Homo sapiens: one gene and its partners. The protein of the gene in region 4 purifies or fractionates together with the protein of the main gene of each other region. This does not show direct contact. Each region holds a gene or a part of one and is shown on either strand. Other genes may lie near its edges.

Evidence for each region.
Region 1: the proteins of C3orf18 (region 4) and THADA purify together in Homo sapiens (affinity purification with mass spectrometry; one large-scale study listed by BioGRID and IntAct). This does not show direct contact.
Region 2: the proteins of C3orf18 (region 4) and XPO4 purify together in Homo sapiens (co-immunoprecipitation; 2 studies listed by BioGRID and IntAct, with this or other methods). This does not show direct contact.
Region 3: the proteins of C3orf18 (region 4) and USP24 purify together in Homo sapiens (affinity purification with mass spectrometry; one large-scale study listed by BioGRID and IntAct). This does not show direct contact.
Region 5: the proteins of C3orf18 (region 4) and BTAF1 purify together in Homo sapiens (affinity purification with mass spectrometry; one large-scale study listed by BioGRID and IntAct). This does not show direct contact.
Region 6: the proteins of C3orf18 (region 4) and PRMT3 purify together in Homo sapiens (affinity purification with mass spectrometry; one large-scale study listed by BioGRID and IntAct). This does not show direct contact.
Region 7: the proteins of C3orf18 (region 4) and NCAPD3 purify together in Homo sapiens (affinity purification with mass spectrometry; one large-scale study listed by BioGRID and IntAct). This does not show direct contact.

The regions. Positions count from the first base shown.
Region 1 is NC_000002.12:43,295,539-43,299,038, forward strand, and holds part of THADA (tRNA (32-2'-O)-methyltransferase regulator THADA), read right to left. Parts: intron 1-3,500. UniProt on the Homo sapiens protein: Together with methyltransferase FTSJ1, methylates the 2'-O-ribose of nucleotides at position 32 of the anticodon loop of substrate tRNAs.
Region 2 is NC_000013.11:20,776,829-20,780,746, forward strand, and holds the end of XPO4 (exportin-4), read right to left. Parts: 3' UTR 501-3,918; downstream 1-500. UniProt on the Homo sapiens protein: Mediates the nuclear export of proteins (cargos), such as EIF5A, SMAD3 and isoform M2 of PKM (PKM2). In the nucleus binds cooperatively to its cargo and to the GTPase Ran in its active GTP-bound form.
Region 3 is NC_000001.11:55,208,865-55,212,364, forward strand, and holds part of USP24 (ubiquitin carboxyl-terminal hydrolase 24), read right to left. Parts: intron 1-3,500. UniProt on the Homo sapiens protein: Ubiquitin-specific protease that regulates cell survival in various contexts through modulating the protein stability of some of its substrates including DDB2, MCL1 or TP53.
Region 4 is NC_000003.12:50,557,748-50,561,247, forward strand, and holds the end of C3orf18 (uncharacterized protein C3orf18), read right to left. Parts: intron 3,318-3,500; coding exon 3,170-3,317; intron 1,991-3,169; coding exon 1,910-1,990; 3' UTR 1,400-1,909; coding exon of another isoform or gene 917-1,399; 3' UTR 278-916; downstream 1-277.
Region 5 is NC_000010.11:91,986,270-91,989,769, reverse strand, and holds part of BTAF1 (TATA-binding protein-associated factor 172), read right to left. Parts: intron 617-3,500; coding exon 190-616; intron 1-189. UniProt on the Homo sapiens protein: Regulates transcription in association with TATA binding protein (TBP). Removes TBP from the TATA box in an ATP-dependent manner.
Region 6 is NC_000011.10:20,488,716-20,492,215, reverse strand, and holds part of PRMT3 (protein arginine N-methyltransferase 3), read right to left. Parts: intron 1-3,500. UniProt on the Homo sapiens protein: Protein-arginine N-methyltransferase that catalyzes both the monomethylation and asymmetric dimethylation of the guanidino nitrogens of arginine residues in target proteins, and therefore falls into the group of type I methyltransferases.
Region 7 is NC_000011.10:134,217,468-134,220,967, forward strand, and holds part of NCAPD3 (condensin-2 complex subunit D3), read right to left. Parts: intron 3,260-3,500; coding exon 3,105-3,259; intron 3,025-3,104; exon of another isoform or gene 2,924-3,024; intron 1-2,923.

The DNA of each region.
Region 1 (3,500 bases), on a different chromosome or scaffold from region 4:
TGACAACTGTACCCAAGATGTTAACAAGTTTATCCTGGATTGGCTTACCAGACAGCATTTAAGTGATACGCATTTATAGCTAATAAAACACCGTTTATATTTATCATCTCATTATAACTCAGAGAACTCTGCTGACTTCTAGAAAACTAACATAAACATAATGCATATGTAAAACATTCAGGTAACAGAAAAATTTATTTGAAATTGAAAATTTGCATAGACTTGCAATAATTCGAGATTTAAAAATATAGAGTATTTATGTAACACATCAAATTGTTTCAAAGTCTGTCACAGGGGGCAAAATGGGGACTGGACTTGGGCTCCAACATGATGGGACCCCAGGGAGGCCACCATCTGGGGCTGCAGACAAACCTCTACTGTTTTTTTTTTTTTTTTTTTGAGATGGAGTCTCGCTCTGTCGCCCAGGCAGGAGTGCAGTGGTGCGATCTCGGCTCACTGCAACCTCCACCTCCAGGGTTCAAGTGATTCTCCTGCCTCAGCCTCCTGAGTAGCTGGGATTACAGGAGCATGCCACCACGCCTGGCTAATTTTTGTATATTTAGTAGAGACAGGGTTTTGCCATGCTGGACAGGCTGGTTTCGAACTCCTGACCTCGTGATCTGCTCGCCTCAGCCTCCCAAAGTGCTGGGATTACAGCGTGAGCCACCGTGCCCGGCCATACCGCTACTCTTAACTCAGACACTGCAGAATTCCCAGCTCACCAGGAGGCATCTTTTTATTTTTTTATTTTTTTGGAGACAGAATCTCCCTCGGTCACCCAGGCTGGAGTGCAGTGGCACAATATTGGCTCACTGCAACCTTCGCCTCCCCGGTACAAGTAATTCTCCTGTCTCAGCCTCCAGAGTAGCTGGAAATACAGGCACACGCCACCACACCCAGCTAATTTTTGTATTTTTAGTAGAGACAGGGTTTCACCATGTTGCCCAGGCTGGTCTCAAACTCCTGACCTCAGGTGATCTGCCCGCCTCGGCCTCCCAAAGTGCTGGGATTACAGGTGGGAGCCACTGAGCCCAGCCAGGCAGTATCTTTATAAAGCAGTGGGGGAAACCCTGGGCAGCTGGGATCTTCAACCTCTGTGTCATCTCTGTTTCAATGTCTAAAAACCGAATCTCATAACAATCTAATAATAATAAGAGCACAGTACTATCATCTCCAGGTACCATTTCCCTATCCTTCCTACCCACTGCTGCTAGAGGACAGCATTACATTCAAAAGGAATTTCATTTATTTGGCACAGTCAGAAATATGGCTCAGAAATCTGCTCTTAAAATTGTAATTAACGGCCGCCCGGGAGGCAGCGGCTGGAGGAGCGGACGGGCCCCGCGGGGCCCGAGGGCAAGGAGCAGCCGCCTGCCTTGGCCTCCCAAAGTGCCGAGATTGCAGCCTCTGCCCGGCCGCCACCCCGTCTGGGAAGTGAGGAGTGTCTCTGCCTGGCCGCCCATCGTCTGGGATGTGAGGAGCCCCTCTGCCTGGCTGCCCAGTCTGGAAAGTGAGGAGCGTCTCCGCCCGGCCGCCATCCCATCTAGGAAGTGAGGAGCGCCTCTTCCCAGCCGCCATCACATCTAGGAAGTGAGGAGCGTCTCTGCCCGGCCGCCCATCGTCTGAGATGTGGGGAGCGCCTCTGCCCCGCCGCCCCATCTGGGATGTGAGGAGCGCCTCTGCCCGGCCGAGACCCCGTCTGGGAGGTGAGGAGCGTCTCTGCCCGGCCACCCCGTCTGAGAAGTGAGGAGACCCTCTGCCTGGCAACCACCCCGTCTGAGAAGTGAGGAGCCCCTCCGCCCGGCAGCTGCCCCGTCTGAGAAGTGAGGAGCCTCTCTGCCCGGCAGCCACCCCATCTGGGAAGTGAGGAGCGTCTCCGCCCGGCAGCCACCCCGTCCGGGAGGGAGGTGGGGGGGGGTCAGCCCCCCGCCCGGCCAGCCGCCCCATCCGGGAGGGAGGTGGGCGGTCAGCCCCCCCGCCCGGCCAGCCGTGCCGTCCGGGAGGGAGGTGGGGGGGTCAGCCCCCCGCCTGGCCAGCCGTGCCGTCCGGGAGGGAGGTGGGGGGGTCAGCCCCCCGCCCGGCCAGCCCCCCCGTCCGGGAGGTGAGGGGCGCCTCTGCCCAGCCACCCCTACTGGGAAGTGAGGAGCCCCTCAGCCCGGCCAGCCACCCCGTCCGGGAGGGAGGTGGGGGGGTCGGCCCCCCGCCCGGCCAGCCGCCCCGTCCGGGAGGGAGGTGGGGGGGTCGGCCCCCCGCCCGGCCAGCCGCCCCGTCCGGGAGGGAGGTGGGGGGGGATCAGCCCCCCCGCCCGGCCAGCCGCCCCGTCCGGGAGGTGAGGGGCGCCTCTGCCCGGCCGCCCCTACTGGGAAGTGAGGAGCCCCTCTGCCCGGCCAGCCGCCATCCGGGAGGGAGGTGGGGGGGTCAGCCCCCCGCCCGGCCAGCCGCCCCGTCCGGGAGGGAGTGTGGGGGGGGTCAGCCCCCCGGCCCGGCCAGCCGCCCCGGCCGCCCCTACTGGGAAGTGAGGAGCCCCTCTGCCCGGCCACCACCCCGTCTGGGAGGTGTGCCCAACAGCTCATTGAGAACGGGCCAGGATGACAATGGCGGCTTTGTGGAATAGAAAGGCGGGAAAGGTGGGGAAAAGATTGAGAAATCGGATGGTTGCCGTGTCTGTGTAGAAAGAAGTAGACATGGGAGACTTTTCATTTTGTTCTGCACTAAGAAAAATTCCTCTGCCTTGGGATCCTGTTGATCTGTGACCTTACCCCCAACCCTGTGCTCTCTGAAACATGTGCTGTGTCCACTCAGGGTTAAATGGATTAAGGGCGGTGCAAGATGTGCTTTGTTAAACAGATGCTTGAAGGCAGCATGCTCGTTAAGAGTCATCACCACTCCCTAATCTCAAGTAATCAGGGACACAAACACTGCGGAAGGCCGCAGGGTCCTCTGCCTAGGAAAACCAGAGACCTTTGTTCACTTGTTTATCTGCTGACCTTCCCTCCACTGTTGTCCCATGACCCTGCCAAATCCCCCTCTGTGAGAAACACCCAAGAATTATCAATAAAAAAAAAATTAAAAAAAAAAAATTGTAATTAACAACAGGAAGAACTATCTGGGCTGTTCTGGATATAGTCCAGGCTGAGTGTAAGTATAGTCTGCTGGACTTGAGAGTTGGACACCCAGACCCATTTTTCTGGTCTGGGGCCTTAAGAAGGGATGATATCACCAGGAAGCCAGGGAATGAAGGCACTACCCCAAAGAAGGAGGAGATGGGGAGCAAGCATGCTGATGAGTGTAATGAAGGTAGACATTCCTTTGGGACTTCTTGACCTACACTGCCTGTGACTTGAGTATTAACTCTTTAAGTATTTCCTAAGCATATACAGGTTGAGCATCTCTAATCTGAAAATCTGAAATCCAAAATGCTCTAAGATCGGAAACTTTTTACGTGTTGAAATGGTGCCATAAGTGGAAAATTCCACACCTGACCTAATGCAGTCAACACA
Region 2 (3,918 bases), on a different chromosome or scaffold from region 4:
GTTGCCAATGTGCCAGTATGAAGAGGTGGGGCCTTTAAGAGGTGATTAGGCCAAGAGAGTTCCTCCCTAATGAATAAAATTAGGTCCCATTACAAAGGGGCTTGAAGGAGGGAGTTGATTCTCTCTCGCCACCATCTGGTGATGGCTTGCTTGCCTCTTCCACATGATGGAAGTCAAAGGGCAGCCTCCAGAAATGAAAGAAGTAAGTTTCTGTTCTTCAGTCTCAGGTATTCTAATAGCACAGAGTAAGATAGTTGAATTAAATAGAACAGACTAAGATAGTTAACATAAATAGATCCATTTTCTCATTTTTTAAAAAAAAGTACAGTAAATAATATGGTGAAGTCTACCCCAATATCCCTAGGGTGGTTGTGGTTAGGGCTATAACGTAGTATCAATATGAAGATATTACAGCATGTATTTAAAAGCAATTGACTATTAGGTATCAGACTTAGTGTTATGATACATTTGTCTAATGAAATGAAATCTGTTTTCAGAAATAATCTTTAAATACAATGGAATTTATTGAGCATCTACTATTATATTTCATCCATCACTTTTAAATTTTTTCTTTGGGAGGAACACTTATAAACTCATGATATGGATAACAGACCTGTGGAAATTAATGTAAGCCCTAAGCAGCTTAGTTAGACATTGAATCTAGGTCTGCCTCTACCCTGCAGTCTACCAGTTCAAGTAGCTTTACCAGGTCAGTCCTTAGAAATAACCATAACATCCAGGGCAGTGCAGTTATAAACAGGTGTACAAATAAGAAGTTCTACTACTCAATACATCTTGGGCTTTCTTAAAGGTGTATTTGAAGCCTAAGATTAGGCAGAAATGAACATTATCAAAACAAGAACAAAACTGCTCACTACTGTGGGAATAAAAATGTTTAGCAGATCCTATTTGCTTTTGTTCATTCATCATCTCTGGGAAACATCAATGACTTACCTCAGTTCACTCTCATGCTATATATTAAAAATAATTTACAGGGACACTCAGTAGGAGGTTGAATTATACGCCAGACTGAGACAGGATGCTGCTGGGGGTGCTGTATGGAATTTCCCAGCAAAAGATTCTTTCATTAGTTTCACCAAATATACCATTTCCACTTAGTTTTAAAAGAAAGTCAAACTGAACTGCCATTTGAGATTACATAGAATGCACAAGACTCAATCTGAGACCCTATGTTTAAAAAAACAAAACTGTTTTATAATCTAATCAGCCTGTCAAAGGCATCACTCATAAGCAACCGAATTGTATTTTTGGAGAGCACCATTAAAGATGTCTTTTAAAAAACAGTTATAGATGTGTATTTATTTGGGACCTTTGAAATCATCTGTGGGTCTCAAATGACAGATGATTAGCCTGTGTGTATGGCCCCACACTTGGTAATGAAAGAAACAAAAATTCAAAATACACTCTAATTGGTTTTCTTAAACAACTTTTCTTTATCCACCTTTGGAGTGGAATAAATCTCAATATAAGCTAAATAACAACATTACAAATCAAAGAATATTCAAAGCAAATTCAGGTTAAAAATGAACATTTTAAAGATGCATTTTCTTTAAAAATTAACTTTTCACTTCATATGTTTACAAGATTTAACACTGGGCAAAGGGTGGATCTATCTAGCACACAGTAATATGGTAATTCACCACTTTCCCTGAAAGGCCAAAAAGAATGACTTGCTAAAAGTATTTACTAAATATGCACCAAAGATAATGACTTAACTAGTAACTGTGAAACTGTTTCTAAGACTGTGGGCTGAGATAAATATTATAAAATATAGACAAAATTTTTATATTTCTAATACTGGATATTCTGTGAGTACCACGGGTTCTCCCAGAAGGTGATGCAAATCTTGATTTTTATCTGTACAGATGTCTTCATTTTTTTAAATTTAAAATTATTTTAGGACCGTGTAATGTCCCCAGTGTCAATCTTCCTATAATGGTAAACAAACTAGCACCATTTCAATGCATTTCATAAAAGAGTCTAGCTAAATACCCATGAACAAATCACACATGGTCAAAACAAAAATGTAATAAAAATATTTAGTGAAAAGACACATTTTAACTCCCATTTATGAATTTTAAAAATACAAATAAAATTTTATCAACCTGATATTCAGCCTATAACTGGCTCAATACATAGCCTTATTTCCTAAAATCATATTGCAGCATCTTCTGAAAAACTAAATGCAATTTTATACCTTCATTAGTTATGTTAATAGAGGTAAATATTTAAACAGTACACTCATCCCTGGGTCTTTAAATAAAACTGAAAAGTCTTAGTGTAAGTTTAAAATTTTAATATTTATAAATTTAAAAAATTTTACACGTGCTGAGTGGTAGCAGTGCTAACATTTTTGTGACCATTAAACCACAAACTCACTGCATAGAGCTTCTTTCTTTGTACAGATAATCAAATCACAATACCAACATTTGCAATTTGTAATAATTTTATGTGGTAAAAGACACCACACCAGGAAGCCTGGGCTCAGAAAACACTTGAGGTCAGATCCCTAGTAGGTACATAGTGCAGATGCAGTATATAATTTCAGGCTAGGAAAATTAGCTACTAGTATGTATCTGACAGTTCCTAATAGCTAAGAGGCCTAAGAATGCAGACGGGGAGAAAAAAAACCAAAACCAAAAAAAAAGACACCTCTCCAATTGCTGGGAGGGCCTGGGAATAGGTGAAGATCAAACCACAGTGGGAGAGGAGGGTAAAGATGTGAGCTTCAAGCGGGTAATGGGCAAGCCACACCTCCCAGTTCCTAGGAGGGAATCGCCACGGCCGACTTCAGCATTCTCGTCTTTACTAAGACTTACCCATAGAGAACTACAGCAGGAAACCGATTTCTTCATTCATTCTCTTTAAAAAGTATGAATGCCCAGTATTAAGCTTCTATTTTTATTTGAACCAAACATATTCTTTGGTTAACTATGTCATGGGTTCTCACTATAATCAACAAAGCATACTTCATATATTTTATATCTAAATGAAAATATGCTTAAAATTCAACTGGAACCATGGCATTTCACATCAATTTGAGCTCAGCAATATGCCTAATTTGGACATTTTAATTTTAGAAAACCAATTTTTAAAAATTCTTAAATGCAGTGTTTTCAGAACATAGTTACCAAGTCAGAGAATAACCACTTATATTTTAAAAAGATTAAAACATTATTATATCCTCAAATCAACAATGTTTTTTTGTGGGAAAGCTTACAGAAAATTATAATGTTAAACCTCATAGCCAAATCAGTTCCTTATTCTCTGGTTTTAGAAAACACAAACAAACCTTAAGAAGTACCGAGGTTCCTTCTGACTTAAAAGGTTAATGTTTTATTCAGGAACCAATAACAATAATTCCTCATCAAAGACAGCTAACTTAGTAAGGTCAATTGACAACCACCTCTAACAACAGAGGTGGCAAACAGATAAAAATTGTTTAACAGAGAAAAATATTATTTCAGGGTTCAGAATGATGTTGAATACTAGGAGACTCAAACTTGTAATCCTTGAAACTGACAGCTAGTTCCCTTCAATACTTTAGGGGTTCATAGAAGTATTAACAGAAATGGGAAACATGGTGATATTACAACTATAAAGACTTGACATTTTTGTTAAAAGAGAAAGTTCAAAGACAGTTAAGGGGAGTGTTAAATAATGCTGACTGGGGGGAAATGATATAGATACTTGCTTTTCAAATGAAAATCATGGACAAGTGGTAGTAACCATCCCATCTGAACAGAGTAATGTAATATAATTAGATACACAGTTTACAACGAAATAAGACTAAATTCTTAAAATTAGTTTGAAAAAAACCTGCAGTTTGTTTACATTAAAAGTCATACTTTACACCAGACAAAAACTCAATGCAGTGATGTTAACATGCTACTGTCT
Region 3 (3,500 bases), on a different chromosome or scaffold from region 4:
GGCGGACGTTGCAGTGAGCCAAGATCACACCACTGCACTCCAGCCTGGGTGAAAGAGCAAAACTCCATCTTAAAAAAACAAAACAAAACAAAAAAAACCCAATAATGTCACCTACTATCAATATGAGCTTAACGAAAATTTTTATGTCAGTTGTGACTGAAAAATGTGATAACACTAAACAATAAAAATTCCTATGATAAAGAAAATGAAAAATACAAGCTTAAAAAAGGAAGTAAAACTCCCTAGAAAAAAAAGGGAGGAAAAAAACATTTACTCTTTTGAAAATGAAGCACAACTCTCTTAGTCGTACCTCTGCAATCTAGTATCATGACTGAAATGTCCTCACATCTGAATTTTCCAGGTGTCTGAAGCCTACTTCTTTATCCATCCAACTTCTTCTTTTTTTTTCTTTTTAAAAGGAAAACCTTTCTAAAATACATTAAACATTCCTGACCCTTCTTAAGCAGACCACACTGGAACCTCTTCTTGACTGTGACATCATTGAAAACACAGTTATCCTCTCAGGGCCATGAAACACATAATAAAGCTGTTTCAAATCACCCTACACAAATCGGCTAGTGTGATTTGGTTGAGTCGGCTTTTAAAGCTTTCCTGTTCCCTCCTTGACCACTAAGCTGCTACTGTCACTTCTCACTATTGTCAAATGAGCTTGTCTCTAAGAGCTCATCACCTTGTGTTTAGATTGCCATAAAACCATTCTAATTTGATAGGAAACCTAATATTGAAACTTGTTTGAACTGTATTTTTTGTTAAGTTTAAACACAAATGAAAGAAATGCATGAGCTTTAGTGCACTTAGAGCGCTTAGTGAGTGGAGTGCATGAGCTTTAATGCATGTACGAAGGTGTTCTGAAATGGTTCCATCTTATGTGTTTACTTCTTATTTCTCTCTGTGGTTCCATATAAGGAAAATTTCCAGGAAAACTGAACTCCAGATTTCAGATTCTACTAAATCTTTTTTAACATTTTCTTATTAAAAGTAAAAAACGCCCTCCTTCACACTCAGATCAAGTAAATGGTATATGATATTGTAGGCAGTAAGTATAAAAATACTTAAGTATATGGACATATTTTTCTATTAATGTTGAAACCTTTTCCTCAAATTGCTAAAACATTACAACATTTGCTTTTCTAACATTGAAATTGTTTTCAAAATTTAAGCTAACAATATTATTATGCTGTATAAAGCTGTCACAACCTACTATGATTTCACTAAAACCACACTCACAGACACACGAAAGGTACTCTCTTCATGCCAAATTACATTCATTCTAAAAGTGAATGGGCAGGTAATTACAAGGTGAGACTCCAACCATTAGATTAACTCACAGACCTAATTCCCAAAGGAGATATATATACATATACTGGATCAGAAAGAAATTCTTATTTAAAAATTAGGCCATGCTGATTCATCTTTAATTCCCTATTTTTATTTCATCTACTTTCAACTGATTTGGGAAATTATTTCATTTTTTTACTCTAAAGCCTTTAAAGGGCCTTTTTTTATTTACCAAATCACAGTAATTCATAAACCACAGGTCATGTACCAAATCACTAATAGTTAACTAAAAGCTACTCATTTGATATTTACTCCACACTCATACTAGGGTTGTTGTATTTTAGGAAAAGAATAACATGAATTTTACCATAAACCTTAATTATACACATTGACAGTATTACAATTTTAATCCATTTATAATTACCACTTACTACCAAAGGGGAACAAGAGAAATAGGAATGAGGTAAGTTAAGGAACTACAAATTAATATGCTTCTTATTTTTATGTGACTTAGATATATTAACAGCAGGACCAACTTTGGGGCTCTAAACTTAAAAAAACAAAAAAGCAATGAAATCTTGAAAGTACTCCTGACAAAACAATACCTCCAGAAAGAACATCCACATTAAAACAGGAACAAAACAAGGAGTTCACAATGTTTATCAGATCACAGTATTAAATGTCACTTCTGGGAATATTAATTAACAGCACTAGACAGCTAAGAAAGGTATTTCCTCAGTTAATATGAAATCTCCTTCCAAAAACTTCCATTTTAGTATTTTCTAAAGACAAACTTAATGAATAAGGTATTCATTATAGTATTAATGTTTGATGGTATTCCTTATGGATAAGGTACATTTCATAATTGTTAAGTTCTGTGAGATGCACAGGATACCTGGTTCAGATTTCTACTGATCCCCTGGAGAGATTACAAAGGCCCAACTCTTCCTGTTGTGTAGAGAACAGAACCAATTGGTACGCACTTGGCAGGCCAGAGTTTACATTAGCCATGCAGTAAAGAGTGAAGAATTCTGACAGGGGGGTGGTTAAAAATCAGAATAAGTTATTTAGAGCAGCTGTGAGAGCTCACTCTCTTTAATAATAGAACAGACTCTTATGTGCCGTGGAATGATTTTGAAGTAATGCTATTCAAAATCAAAACTGGACAGCTTCTCAAAGTCCCTTCCAGACCCAGAGACCAAGAACATTTACATCCAACAATACTAGTGAGAACCAAACACATCTCTTCTGCAAAACACTATCTTTACTTAATTGGAGGATATTAACAAGGTGGCTTTCTATGCAGTTGTGTGTTTTGCTAGATATCTGGGTCTTTTTTATCTGCATTCTCCTTGCTTCTACTGAACCGGAAGTTAACAGCTTTCACTGTTCAAATATTAATTTTTAAACCAAACCCTAATTACAGCAGGGCCTCAAACTGATTTACCTAACTAGCTACATGACCTTGGACAGTCTTTTCTTGTAAAATGAGAGGCTTGGACTAAGACCCACTAGAATGTAAACACCACGTTCTGTTCAACACTCTACTCCCTGCCCCTGGGACAGGAAGGCATTAAGAGAAAACCATTGCTATCCCCAAACTACAAATATAAAAAAACTTAAGTCATTTCTTTCTTTTCTAATCAATTAGATTTTATTCTGTTTTTCCCATTTTTAAAGAAGACAATGACACTGAAATGTCCTGTGCAGCAAATAGAAATGTATATAATTTAAAATAAGGTACTCAGTTTTTAGAAATAAAAAGGATTAACTATATAATAGCTGACAATCTTCACCCAGTTTTTTTACTCTTCTTCCTTCCCTTTAACCCATTACTGTGTCCCATTCCTTTTTCCTTTGAAAGAGAGCCCGAAAGAGTGCAGGACTTCAAGCAAAAGGGCCTGAGTACTAGCCCCACCTCTTCTATTAACTGACTCTGTGGGGACAAGCCACTTCCCCTTTGGGGCCCGAAAGGGTGCATCTGTTAAACAAGGGAGCTGCACTAATTATTAATTTCTAAAGTATGCTTCTTTTTAAAAAATCTGATTCACCTTATATTCTACCCATTATTCGATTCTTAATGGTTGGTGCTCACCACATCATTGCACAGTAGCCTTAAAATATGTCTTTCCCTCATTATTTCTCCTTACTATCCATACTGTTACCAAACAAATTTAATCCTAAAACCATGAGTTGAGCAG
Region 4 (3,500 bases):
GCCCCCTTCCTCCTCCGGTCTCACAAGGTCCTGTCCAGTTGACCTTTCCACCCTAGGGGGTGACAGGCCTTGGGACCCCAATCCACAGTTGGGAAATGAAGCCCCAGGGCAACCTCGAAGTCAGGGCCAGAGGCATTTCCTCAGACGGCTCAAGAGAAACCTGGGGTGCCACCTCATAGCTGTGATCCAAGCAACTATCCCCAGGCCCCCCACAGCCCCTCACCCATCCTGCCCCTCCTAGGGTTCCACACCCCAAGCGTCACAGGCTCACACACTCTCCATGTAAACATCTTCATTACATCTTTAATGCTCTCACGTGGAGCTGCTCTGGGTTAAATTACAGCTGTATGCATCCTGAATTCCTGGCAGCCTCCAGTCGACTCAAGTGCTAACGTATTTATAGCATTTAGAGGAGGGAATAAATCCAGAACCTTCCCCATGGGGGCTTCCTAGGCCTTTCCCTCCTGACACATGGCATTTGCCCAGTGGAAGGTCTGCATACACTACCCCTGCATCCCCTCCAGCCAGCAGCGGACAGTGACGGTGGAGAGGCTGGGCACGGGACATGCCTCTGTGCATGCTTGTGTGCATATGTATGCCCAGCGTAAAAAAATGCCCTGCTCTTGTGGTCTGTCTCTGCCCAATGGCTTGCCAGGACCCCTGGTATCAGCCCTGACCCTCCAAGGCTTATGGAGAGGCCAAGTGCAGGGACCCATCTCCCCACTCTCTAAACACTGAACGGCTCTTCCCATAGATGGGATGGAGGTGGGGAATTCAAACATAGACTAAGTTTTTTAGATGTTTTTCTGAAGTGCAATCCCTCACCCACTTTCAGGCAGTCATAACTGCCCCCTCTAGCCTGCAGCCTGTGATTACTGCCCTCAGACCAACAGCCTCTCCCAACCCCAGATCCTCATTAGAGCCCAAGACAGGGAGCCGTTTTCAGAAGCAGGTGAGCCCAGTGAAACAATGCAGTGGAGAGAGGAACCGTGCTGTGCGTGCTTCCCTCTTCCCTGCAGTCCCTGAAGATTGAAGGCAGAGAAGATAGCCTACCCTGATGCTCCACTACATACCATGGGGTAGAGGTCGACTTGGAGGGTGGGGCCAGTGTGGACAATCTCATTCTGCCCGCTGTGCTGGGACAGGCACATGTCTGCCCATGGGCACACTCATGCACATGCATGAGGCCTCTCGGCAGGTCTGGGGGGGCTGCATCCTTCCACTTCCATTCCCCTACTTCCTTCCCCCTCAGCTCCCATCCTAGCTTGGCCCCAGTAACATCTGGTTGCCAAGGATGGGTGGCTGGGAGACCTCCTGGACCCTCCGTAGTATGGATGGACCCTGGGTGTGAATTGCCCTTCTCCTGGCATCCTTGCATACTGGACAGTTTCAGCTCCATCTCTGGGCTTCTCAGGGCCCATAACAGATGCTGCCCTACCCTGTCCCTATAACTTGGGTGGTTTCCTCTCCCCACCCCAGAGGAGGCTCCAGATTCCAAAAAACAGGTCTCTCCCTAACAGAGGGAAACCTCCCCTTTCCTCCCCCAATCCCTCCCACTCCGTATCTCCCTCATTTCCTCCACATTAGCGGGGCAGACCCTGATGTGAGGGATCTGGACAGGGGATGAGGAAGCCAGCAGAGGCTCTTGACCTTCTCAGCATGAGGGATGCCCTCTGTGCCAGGGCCCTCAGGTCAGGAGAAGTCAGTGGTCAGAAGTCCAGCCTGGCTAGGGCCCTCTCTTAGAGTCTAAAGTCAGCAGGTGGGTCTGGAGAACAGCTAGGACCTGGCTCAGCCCTCTTGTGTCTTGGCAGGGAAGATCTTCAGAGTAGGTCTTGACAATCAGGGAGTGGGGAGCTCTGTAGGCACCGTGATGGGTCTCTATCAGAAGTCCAGGCTTGTCCCAGGCCACTCACGCATGGATGGCATTGGCCACATCGGTAAACACCAGCCGGCTGGGTCTCTGCAGTGGGCCCTGGGAGGGCAGAGTAGTCTGCAGGAAGACAGGCAGGGGCATCAGAGACCATGGGCAAGGCCATGCACTCACTGGCCTGGTCACCTCCACCCTCACTTCCTGGTGCCTGCTTATGCTTGGCACTAGCAATGGCTTCTGCCTGGAATGCCCTCCCTGCAAGCTCAGCCTACAAATATGACTTGGCTCAGATGACTCCTCCCCAGCTTGCCCTGTCACCTTGGAGGCACTTACTGTGTTGATTTAATTATGCATGCACTGCCTTTTCCCAGTGGGGGATCAGAGGGCTGGACTCTGTATCCCCAGGCCCTAGCACAGGGGCTGGTACAAGGAGGAACATGGGAAACAAGTATCAAGTGGCCAGAAGTCCCAGTGGCTGGGTGGACCAAGGTTCTCAGTGCGAGTTCCTGAATATCCCAAGGGGGCAATATATCTTGACCCAGGTGATGCAGAGCTGGTGGCAAAACCAAAGGGTCTTCAGACTTCCAGCCTGGATTCTTTCTGAGCCCAAGAAGACGCAAAGAGGCTGGATAAGTCAGGGGCAGGCCAGGCCTGCTCATGGTGCTCTGGCCCTTGGGGATTTGGGGAAATGGTGGCAAGTGGTCAGGCAGCCCAGTGGTTACAACAGGATGGCCACACAGGTACCTATCCCTTTGGACACAGGAGGCAAGTTTGGCTGAGATCTTCACATGCCTGGGTCTGTCAGCCACTGGGAATCCACCAGCCTACTCAGAGGTACCGCTGTCCAAGAGTCTAACCCCATCCACAACCCACTCAGGACCACGGACCCTCAGGAAGCAGAGGAACCTGGGGTCCTAGCCGCCAACAGTCTCTCCCATTAGTCCTTTCCTACTTTCCTAACCAGTACGTGGGGGCACATGGGGCAAGAATTAGGATTTTCAATTGTGGAAGAGAACACTGAGGCTCAGAGATGCCAGTGGGGCTCCCAAGATCAGCAGGCTATGGGGCAGAGCCAGGCTGTATCCCAGGACTGCCTTGGCCTGGCCTTGCGCTGTGAGTTTGTGGGTGGCCCCAGAGCAATATGACCACTTTCTGAACAAATCTGGAAAAAGCCGTATACCCAATACCTGCCATCTGACCACAAGGCAGGTGCTAGAAAGCTGCATGAGAAAGGAGGGAGGGTGAGGGTGGAGGACAGAGGATGCTGCAGGCGGGGTGGGGAGCCTGGTCAGTGCCCACCTTGCCCTGCATGGCCTGCACAGAAGTAGCAGCCTGTACAGAGGCGGCGTCCCGCCCATGCTCCAGCAGCTCCTGCTCCAACTCATCTTGTTCCTCCGTGGGGTCGAAGTTGTACATGGGCATGAGCTGGTGGCGTAGCTTCTCCAGCCTGGGGATGGGGGCAAAGGCTGCTGGGGACAGGGCAGGCCCTTCCCCTCCCAGCAGCCCTCCAGGCCCTGCCTCCTGACTAGCTGAGCCACAGCACACAACCATGCTTAGGGCCTTAAGGTTTCCCTTGAAATGGGAAAAAATGACAGACATTTTTGCACCTATAGTACCAGCTCAACCCCTT
Region 5 (3,500 bases), on a different chromosome or scaffold from region 4:
GGGTTGTGACTGGTAAGTATTATGTGCAAATTCATGTAACAAAGAGTTTTGTTATAATCAAGCCTTTTCTCTCAGAATGGGAAAAAACACTAACATGAACTGGATTTGTGCTTAAATTATACCCATAAGTAAACAAAAACAAATTTAAAAGGTTATTTCTCTACCCCAAATAAAAGTTTAGGTATATACCTTTAGAATTTTCCTGGCCACTTTGTGTTGGTACTGGACATGTGACACAAGGAGTTAGATATGGGTCCACACAAAGTGAGCTACAGAGGTTTTTAATAATTTTTGAATTGGGACAGGGCGTCCTTGTTGTGCACTGCTGAAGGAGTTTAGCTATGCACTGAGCTGCATAGTTTTGCACTAGTGTATTCTCTTCTTTTTTAATTGTCTCCATTAATGGTTTTATGATAGGATTTAATTTCTCCGGAAGCTGCTGCAAGCTCACAACTGCACAGGCAGCAAAAGTATGCACTCTCAACTGCAACACTTGCCACTCCTGGTTGGTCTCTGTAACTGTCATTTGGACCTGCTGTCGTTTACTATCTAACTGTTGTAACACTTGAGGATTTAAATCGAAAGATGATGTGGCTTCATTAAAAACAGTAGTGACCTATTAAAAAAAAAAGAAATTAAAAATCATTAATCATATCAACCCCAAATAGACTGTAAGCTCCTAAAGGGTAGACAGCAAGCTTTCTGTTTCAATTTTGGTTTCCACAATATGTAATATTGTTTTAGTACTCAGTAAACTAATGTCTAAAACTTCCCAACTAAATTTTATTTTAATCTGACTAAAATTTAACATTAGCATTATATTCTTTAAGAAAGACATTCTCTTGAGAAGAATAAAATTATCTAACCTTTAAATATGTCTAAATGACTTTGAGGAAAATCACATTTAACACCCGCAGAATACTCTGGTGAAACAAGAAAGCTACAGGCAAATATAAACTAACTGTTCATGAAGGAATTCCAAAACTCACAAACTTCTTTTTGGGAAAAATATTCTTTTCAACTCTAAAACTCGTGAAAACTTAAGAGTGGCTGTTTACTAAGTGGCTAAGTGTTGCTAACTGAATCATTCTCTTTCTTTCTTTAACCTCCCTTCTGGTGGAAATGCCCAGGCAATGGAAGAAGGAAAAGAAACAAAACAAAACAAAACAGAACAGAACAAAATGGTGCAGTTATCATTCACTTAATTACCAAGAGCTATCTAAGGCTACAGGACTGTTGTACCAGACTACTTTGCAAGCCCCATTGAAAGACTGTTCAGTCAGTCTTTTTTTTAACAACTTTATTCAGATATAATTTGCATACCATAAAAACTACCCATTTGAAATGTACAATGTATAAGATTTATTTGAAACAGGGTTACAATGCTAAAAGTTTAAAAACATTGTCCTAAATCCACTATGCTCATGTCACTTTTCAATGACTGTAGACAACTGAGGAAAAGCCTCAGTTACCCCCAAATTAATTCAATCATTCAACCAATATTTATTAAAAGATAAATAAGATATAATGTCTTAATATGCTCAAAAAATGCAGAGACTAATGTGGGAGAGATATAAATAATTAAGAAAATGTAACATATAACTGAGGTAAGTGCAAGTTGCTGTGGGAATACAGAGCACTCCTTATTCCTTCTTAGAAGAAGAGATTAGTGGGAGACTTGTCAGAGGAGGATAACACTTATGCTTGGTTTTTAAAGAACAGGCCAATCAGGGATTATAGGGACATCTTGGCAAACAAAGTGAGGTAGGGAGTGGAAAACAGGACACTGTCTGTGGAATTGAAGTTTATCATAGCTTGAGCACAACACACAGAAAAAGAGATGAACTCTGGATAAGCACAGAGGGTTAGGGATGGGGAATTCCTGGCAAAGGAAATAGAAGCTCGGGCCCAGAAGTGAGAATGAGCAGAAGTGAATAAGTGTAGCGTACTTGCGCAAGAAGAAAGCTAACTGGGCGTGAGTGGAGAAAGTTTGAGAAATAATGAGGAGATAAGAGATAGAGCATTTAGAAGAAAGTGATGAAAAGAAGAAAGATAAAAATGAAAAAGCAAGGAAAAGGAAAATAATGTTTTTAAGCAGGAGAGGGATGTTCAGGGTGGCACAAAAAGAGCATTGCTAGTCTAGCACAACATGCAGAATGAAATGGACCAGAGGCTGCCTGGAGCCCTAGAGATGAGTCAGGACCTAGATATAAAGTACTAAGATCTGACTGGGCTCTGATAATGGAAATAGAGAAGAGATTAAACATGAGACTTTCTTTTTTTTTTTGAGACCAAGTCTCACTCTGTCACCCAGGCTGGAGCGCAGTGGCGTGATCTTGGTTCACTGCAAGCTCCGCCTCCTGGGTTCACGCCATTCTCCTGCTTCAGCCTCCCGAGTAGCTGGGACTACAGGCACCCACCACCACGCCCGGCTAATTTTTTGTATTTTTAACAGAGATGGGGTTTCACCATGTTAGCCAGGATGGTCTTGATCTCCTGACCTCATGATCCACCCACCTCGGCCTCCCAAAGTGCTGGGATTACAGGCGTGAGCCACTGCGCCCGGCCTAAACACATGAGACTTTCTGAAAGAAAATGCTGACAAGATTTGTGACTGGAATAAAAAGAGTATCTTTGTCAAAAAAAAAAAAAAAAAAGCCAGTTTTTGTTGTGTTCAGTGTGAAGTGACAGTGAGATATTTAAGTAAAAATGCCTAAAAGAAGAACGTAAGAAAGACTGAGAGTAGACAGCACACAGTACCTGGGTAGGAACTAAATCATGAGAATGGTGCAAGAGACAAAGATCGCAGGGAAATGTCTATATTTGGCAGGTAACAGGAAAACAGGGATTCAATGAAGATACAAAAGGCAGTGGCTCCTTTGAAAACTGCCCTTCCCTCAAAAGTCCCTTACAGAAAAAAAAAAGAAAAAAAGTCTCTCCCAGAGATTCTGATATTTATGCTTATCTTCTAGCCCAAGTCAAAACAACTGAAGAGTAAAAGATCTGAATAAGCAAATCTTAAAGAAGGGGCCATTTGATGAGCTTAAAAAAGGAAAGTTCCCAGAAATAGTAGGCAGGGAACCTAGACTATAAAGAAAATTTGAGATTTAATTCCAGACAGGCAAAAAAGTAGGGAGAGGAGGCAAAAAGGAAAACTTACAGAATAACAACACTCGGGAAAATAACTTTATAAAAGAAGAGAACCCAGGGGGAAAAAAAACAGCAATTTTAGCTTTCTCTCCACAGGTGAGAACAAAAAAATTCAACTATATTATTTTTCAACTAGAAATGGGGATAAGAAATGAAGATTACTATTTTCATGGGGACCAACACAAATGAAGTGACTCAATTTCTGATCCTATAACTCAAAAAAGGAAGAACTCATATATACTACACCTAATCTCATGCACTTACTAAGTACAAAGCTGCTGTAATGAAGCATGGATGCTGGCATAAGGAAAGACAAATACATTGAACAAATGGCCCAGATACACAGCATA
Region 6 (3,500 bases), on a different chromosome or scaffold from region 4:
CTGGCCCATAGGATACAATACAATACAATATTTGATGAGCAAATGTGTTTATTATACATTCTGTTATGTTAGTTACGATAGTATATTACAGTTTGCCTTATACTGCAATTTATTTAAGAGCAAGGCATATGTATAACTCACTTCTATGCCCCTTACCCAATACAATGTTATATAGTAGGTTCTCAATAAATTTTAGCCAAATTAAAATTTTTAGTCTTCAGTCTCAAATATGGCTAGCTTTATTACATAGTCAGTATACTTTATTAAAGCATTGACTAACTGAACTTGAATGGAACTAATAATTTTTAACTCTGAAAAGCATGGAACATGTGGGACAAATATGGAGAGGAGAGAGCTAGAAAAGATCTAATTCTGTATGTAGGAAATGCAGAAGTCTCAGCCTAACCCCCAAATTACGCATTTTCAGGTGAGATCCAAACCCACACAGCAAAAGCTTAGAGCATTGAACTAAAATTTGAATCACTGCTGCAAGTCTCAGGATTAACCTCTGGATAAAACATGCATGGAAAAAAAACCGAAACCAACAAGTAAAGGCCTAGAGAACTGACGTGAGATTGGAAAAATCTGTAAAAGTCTCAGACTAATCCGTAAACTAGGTATGTGTAAGACAGCCTCAAAACAGCATAACAAAGGCTTAGAGAATGTGACTGAGACTTGGTCAACTGTCTGCTCGGACACTAAGACAGAACTTATGGTCTGATTTTAACTGGGCTTGACTGCTAACAACAAACATCAACATCCTTAAGATTTTAACAAGACACACAGTTTACACAACATAGCATGCACAACATCTAAGGTGCAATCTCAAATTACTCAACATACAAAGAATCAGGAAAATTGAACAACTCTCAGGAGAAAAGACAAGCCACCTCTGAGATAATCCAGATGCTCAAACTATCAAGCAAAACTTTAAAGCAGCAATTATAACCATGTTCCAACGGTGACAGAAAACACAATGGAATGAATCAAAAGACAGAAATTCTCAGCAGAGAAACCATAAAAAAGCACCAAATGAAAAATTTTCAATTGAAAATTATAATAACTGAAACTTCCGGGTTGAATAGCAGAATGGAGATGACAGGGAAAAAATCAGTGAATTTGAAGATTGATAGAAATTATCCAATTTGAAGAAGGGAAAAAGACAGCAATTAAAATGCATGTTATAGAACCTTGGAGACCTATAGATCTAACGTGTCATTGGTGGTCCAGATGGAAAAGAAAAAGACACTGATGGAGAAAAAAAAGTTTTAAAATTCTATATCTAGACAGAATGAATGAAGGCATTTTCAAGTCAAGGAAAAGTAAAGAAATTCATTGCCAATAGACTTCCTCTAGAAACATTTTAAAAGAAGTTCTTCAGAAGGTAAACTGGAACAACAAGAACAGAAAACCCATAGTTCTAAAACATCCTTTTGTTTTCAAAATTTTTAGTGTACCTTTTAAAATTGTTTTAAACTCATGTAACAGCCTCTCATCTTTCTGTAATTATACTTCTATAACTGTTATATTTATTGCCAGTCTTTTTTTAATCAGAATTAGAAATGCTTCTCTTCATGTATCTGAAGATGTCACAAAAGCTGCTTTTAAACCCAAATTTTCACAAAAGCTCTTATTAGCTTACTAGGATTTATTTTTCCCCACATTTTTTGGGGGGCCTCCCAAAGCACTGGGATTACAGGTGTGAGCCACCACGTCCAGCCACACATGCTTATTAATCAATCTCCAAATCTGTGTATGAATTTCAGTTAAAAATTTCCAGCCCTTAATAATATAGTGAAAGAAATACTGGGAAGTTCTGGGTAACCAAAAAATAAGTTTTAAGACAAAGAAAAATGACAGATATAGTTAACTTCAGTTGTAAGCACTGGAAAGAATCTATGACAAATATCTGAAATTGCATCTATGTGAAATGCCTCACAGTATCTTTGAGTCTTCAAGCACAGTCACATTTCTAATGAGGTTTGGTTTACAGTAATACTCAGTTCCACAGCACACATTAAACAGAAAGCAGAAGCATGAGGAGAAGTTAGGAAGGAATTCACCTAAAATTCAAACTGTGTGCAGATAATCTATCTACTCACTAGACAGCATTCGTACAGTTGAGAAAGTGGAAGATTGCTGCTCTGAAAAAAACAAAGGGAGTTTCTGGTTTTAAAATGGGTGTCTACCCTCAAACACCAACATGATCTAGAATGCCCCTTAAAGAGACAGGGTTTGTGGTGTTACCTTTTTTTCTTTTCTTTTCTGTGTGATTCTTATTTTTAAAAATTTTTATTTAATTTTAGAGATGGAGTCCCGCTATGGTGCCCAGACTGAAATCAAACTCCTGGGCTTAAGGGATCTTTCTGCCTAAGCCTCCTGAGTAGCTGGGACAACAGTTGCATGCTACTAACTCTTAATTAAAAGAGATTAAGAAAAAAAAAAACCCCTTCAATTTGAAACATAGTAATATAAAACCAAATGAATTATGATTAGTGTTTTTATTTCTGCAAAGCTATTAAATAAGGAATAATGATATAACCAAATATCAGCTGATTTAGGAATAAATGACTTATTTTGTCAGGAAAATATAAACATGCCACTATTTTCAATTACAGTTTGGCCACCTTGCTACCATCACTTTGACAGGCTATCTTAACATCTTTTAAATGTTAATTTCAATGAATATACATTATCTCTGTGGAAGTCATTCAAATATAAGAATAAACAACCATAGGAAATAATGACTAATAGGCAATGGCAACAAATAACTAACTGGAGCTACAACTTGACATATGCTCGTAAAAGATCAGAGAGGTCTGAAGGCTGACTGCAGAAGAAATTTCTCCTTTGTCTCACGTATATATCTTGTTGGGGCAATGAGAACTGCTGAGGGGGAAAAAAGCATTAAAATCTATCTGTAGGAGTTGGGTTAATCTGCAAAGGCAAGGTCACAGTTAAATAAAATTTCACTGAATTATACCACAGTCAGAAAAATTTATAACTAAAAGTTTAGTTATAAAAGTCCCTTAGAGTGAGAGAAGGGAGAATGAGTGGTAAGTAGTAAAAAAACAAAAACAATGATAGAAGAAAACAGAATGAAAGGAAACTACGTATACATAGTGAATTTCTGGGATAGCTTGATCACTCTTGATATTTTGTGAGAATCCTCGACAATTACTTTGATGCACATAGGAAAATACAAGCATGGAGCTCTGTTGTACATCTTAAATATTCCTCAGCATGTAATAGTTTCAGAACTCATCTTTTTGTGGATTTCACAAAAAGAAAACTCATGGCATTTGTAAACTGAATCATGAAAAAATCTGTTTTAAGCCATGTTTTGTTTATATGTATAAAGGTAAATGCAGTTCATTTAATATACACTCATTTGAAGAACAATGATTTGGGATAAAAAATGACTTTCTCAGGTATTTTAGTGTGATGAATATTTCTTTAAAGAGGACACATTGTGTGTATGTAATAGGATGGCAACCAAT
Region 7 (3,500 bases), on a different chromosome or scaffold from region 4:
CTCAAATTCCTTTACCAATAATTACTAACTGAGGAAATCAGAGCCCTTTATTTAAATGTTCTGCAGATTGCAGGCAATGGGAGCAGGAAATGAAAGAGATCTCGGAAATGGCCCAGGTAAAGGAGATAAACCCTAGAAAAGAAACCACAATTGTATTAATTCTATCTTCATTCCATGTCTTCTCCTACTAAACACATGAAGAAGAAATGGGTTATTTTAATAACCTAAACATAGCAGGAACTAAATATGGTTTATCCTTGAGTATCGTAACAAAAAAAGGCCCACAAAATTCAAGTGAGCAGAGCACTCTCCTTTCCTTAACTAAAAAACTTACGGGAGAAATCATCTCCACTGGGCACAATGGCTCATGCCTGTAATCCCAGCACTTTGAGAGGCCAGGGCAGGAGGACTGCTTGAGCCCAGGAGTTTGAGAACAGCCAGGGCAACAAAGCAAGACCTTGTCTCCACAAAAAATAAAAAATTAGCTGGGCGTGGTGGCACACACCTGTAGTCCCAGCTACTCAGGAGGGTGAGGTGGGAGGCTCATGTGAGCCCAATAAGTTGAGGCTGCAGTAAGCTTTGACTGTGCCACTGCATTCCAGCCTGGGTGACAGAGCAAGACCCTGGTCTCAAAAAAAAAAAAGGGGGGGGGGGGAAGAAATCATCTCCTAACTTTACAGTGTCACATCCTCATTCCTAATGCCACCTGCACCTCCACTTCACACACGAGGGTGATCGATCACCCTAAACCATCTGCTCACCAGGGCTCTGCATATGGGGTCACCTTGGCCCCATGTGATCCCATGGCTGCTGTCTAGTCTGGGCGTCAGTGACCCTGCACTCCCTACATGTGACTGCTCCTCTGCAGACCCCGTCCAATCAGCTCTCCATTTCTGTCCTGGCTGCTTCTCACCCTCGGTGATCTCATGCATCACTGTGCTTCAACCCATACCTCAATTTAAAGAACTCTCTTCTCTCTCCTGGTCTCACATTTCTACTACCTGTTAAACTTCCCAAGGATCTCCTGACAGAATCTCAAGTTCAGAAGTCTAAACAGAACTGTTTCTCCATTTGACCTTGCTCTTTTTCCCTTATTCCCCACCTTGGTTAACAATATCATCATCTTCCTAGTTTTGAAACCCTGGGGATCACTGACTTCTTTCTTTTTCTAATTCCCTATGCCCAGTCAGTTTAGCACTTCACACCATGTTTTTAAGATATCTCAAAAGGGCTTCCTAGTTCACAAGGCCCTATTAATTCTAATTCCAAAAATGTCCCTAGTTTTTAGTCTTCCTTTCCAGTTCCCAAAATTGTAACTCCGGATCATGCCATTATTACTCATAACACCTGGATCACCAATACAGTCTCCCAAGGGCTCTCCCTGCACACAATTTTTCCCACTTCAGTCCACCTACTGTCAAGAACGTCTGCTTAAAACAGATCTATTCATGTTACCTATCTATTGCCCACTGTAACCTCTTTCACACAGGCTGCTTGAGGATTAAATGAGTTAATACATGCAGGACGCTTAGAACAAAACCTCATACACACTCTACCAAACATGTTCAAACTCCACTGCTGAACCTCACGTAAAGCTACCCGTGACCTACCCTTACTCTACCTTACCATCCCGTTCCACCACACTTTTTCTGTATGCCTCTTGACACTTCCTGCGTGTTCCCATTGGGTGGCTCCTTCACTAGGACTGCCTTACAACCCAAGCTTCTGCTAGTCATCTGTGAAGATTCGCTGCTGGCCACTTTCTTTCTGGAACTTTCCCAACCCTACCATGCTCCCTTTTTCACACCCTATGCAACAAATCCGCACCTCTCTTGGAGCATTTTTCACAGTGTGGTTCGTAGAATATTTCCAGGCGCCCAAATGCACAGTGGCACTGAACTCTCCACCCCCTGCAACTGCATGTGGCTGCTAGACCTACTTTGGCTAGTGTTCAAATGTCCACTCTTCCTCCCTGAGGTCCCTGGGGAGGACCTCAACCTAGGGAGATTGTATCGTAATCCCCACTCTGTCAACTCAGGTACTTAAGGCAGTGCTTAGTGTTATGCTGAAGGAATGTTTAATTAGATGATTTAATTTTGTGATGTGAAACTTGGAAGTGAATTTTTTTTTGTTCATTTAAATGTTTCAGAGATGTTAATATCCAATTAGCTTTTGTTCTGTTTCCCAACCCTTTGGTTTTTTTTGAAAACTAACAACCTAAATATTAATAATAATTTATATTTCTATGCATTGGATAGAACTCAATATTTACAGGAACTGTTTGGACAAACCTGTTAATTCAACTAGTCATTCCTCAGTTTAATAATATCAGATTTTCTTTTTTTGTGAGACAGAGTCTTGCTCTGTCGCCCAGGCTGGAGTGCAGTGGCGTGATCTCGGCTCACTGTAACCTCCGCCTCCTGGGTTCAAGCAATTATCTGCCCCAGCCTCTCGAGTAGCTGGGATTACAGAAGCCCGCCACCACAACCGGCTAATTTTTGTATTTTTAGTAGAGATGGGGTTTCACCATCTTGGTCAGGCTGGTCTTGAACTCCTGACTTCGTGATCCACCCACCTCGGCCTCCCAAAGTACTGGGATTACAGGCATGAGCCACCATGCCTGGTCGCAGATTTTCTTAAAGTTAAGGTTAAGGCATGTCTGAATTGTTATTTGCATTTTCCTTGGTCTAGTTTTCTTGTTTTTGCCTTTATATTTTTCCTTTTTTTTTTTCCTTCTGAGATGGGGTTTTGCCATGTTGCCCAGGCTAGTCTCAAACTCCTGAGCTCAAGCAACTGGCCAGCCTCAGCCTCTCAAAGTGCTGGGATTACAGACGTAAGACACCACACCCGGCCTTATACTTTTCCTTTAATTTGCTATTGTAAAAAACAGTCGTGTCTTAAAAAAAAAAAATCAGACAAGTACCTTGAAGCTTTTGGAGGAAAGCTCTTAGGATATTCCAATAAATTAACCACATTCTTTATGTTACTCATATTGTACTCCCTGTGAACTGTACACCAAGAAAGCTAAGCTTCAGATTATAATAATGACTTTCATCTTCTACTTCTAACACCAAACTTTGGCTAGTTTGTTTTTATATTTTTACCTCCATAGATCCATGTTCTCCAGTAGCAAAGGGTAAAAGGCTTTCATAGAGTTTTGTGAATGCAGCCAATCCAGTCTCTATGATCTCTGCTTCTATGCTGGGATCCAAAGGCTCAGTCTCTGTGAAATCCAGTTCCCACACTGTGTCAACCCATTCTAGGGGAAAATGCAATGAAATGTGTAAGTACTCTGTAACAAGTAAAAAAACTAGTCACCTTTAGATTCCAGGTGTGTTCAAGAGGAGAAAAGTTTACTAGTCACGATTCACATTTAACTTGTTTTAATAACATAGGTGTAGCATAATAAAAGAAAACCAGAAAAGGTTAAGAGAATCTTAAATCACAACTGACACTGACTATTAAGCTAATCATCTTCTAAAAATATAAAGGAGGAAATA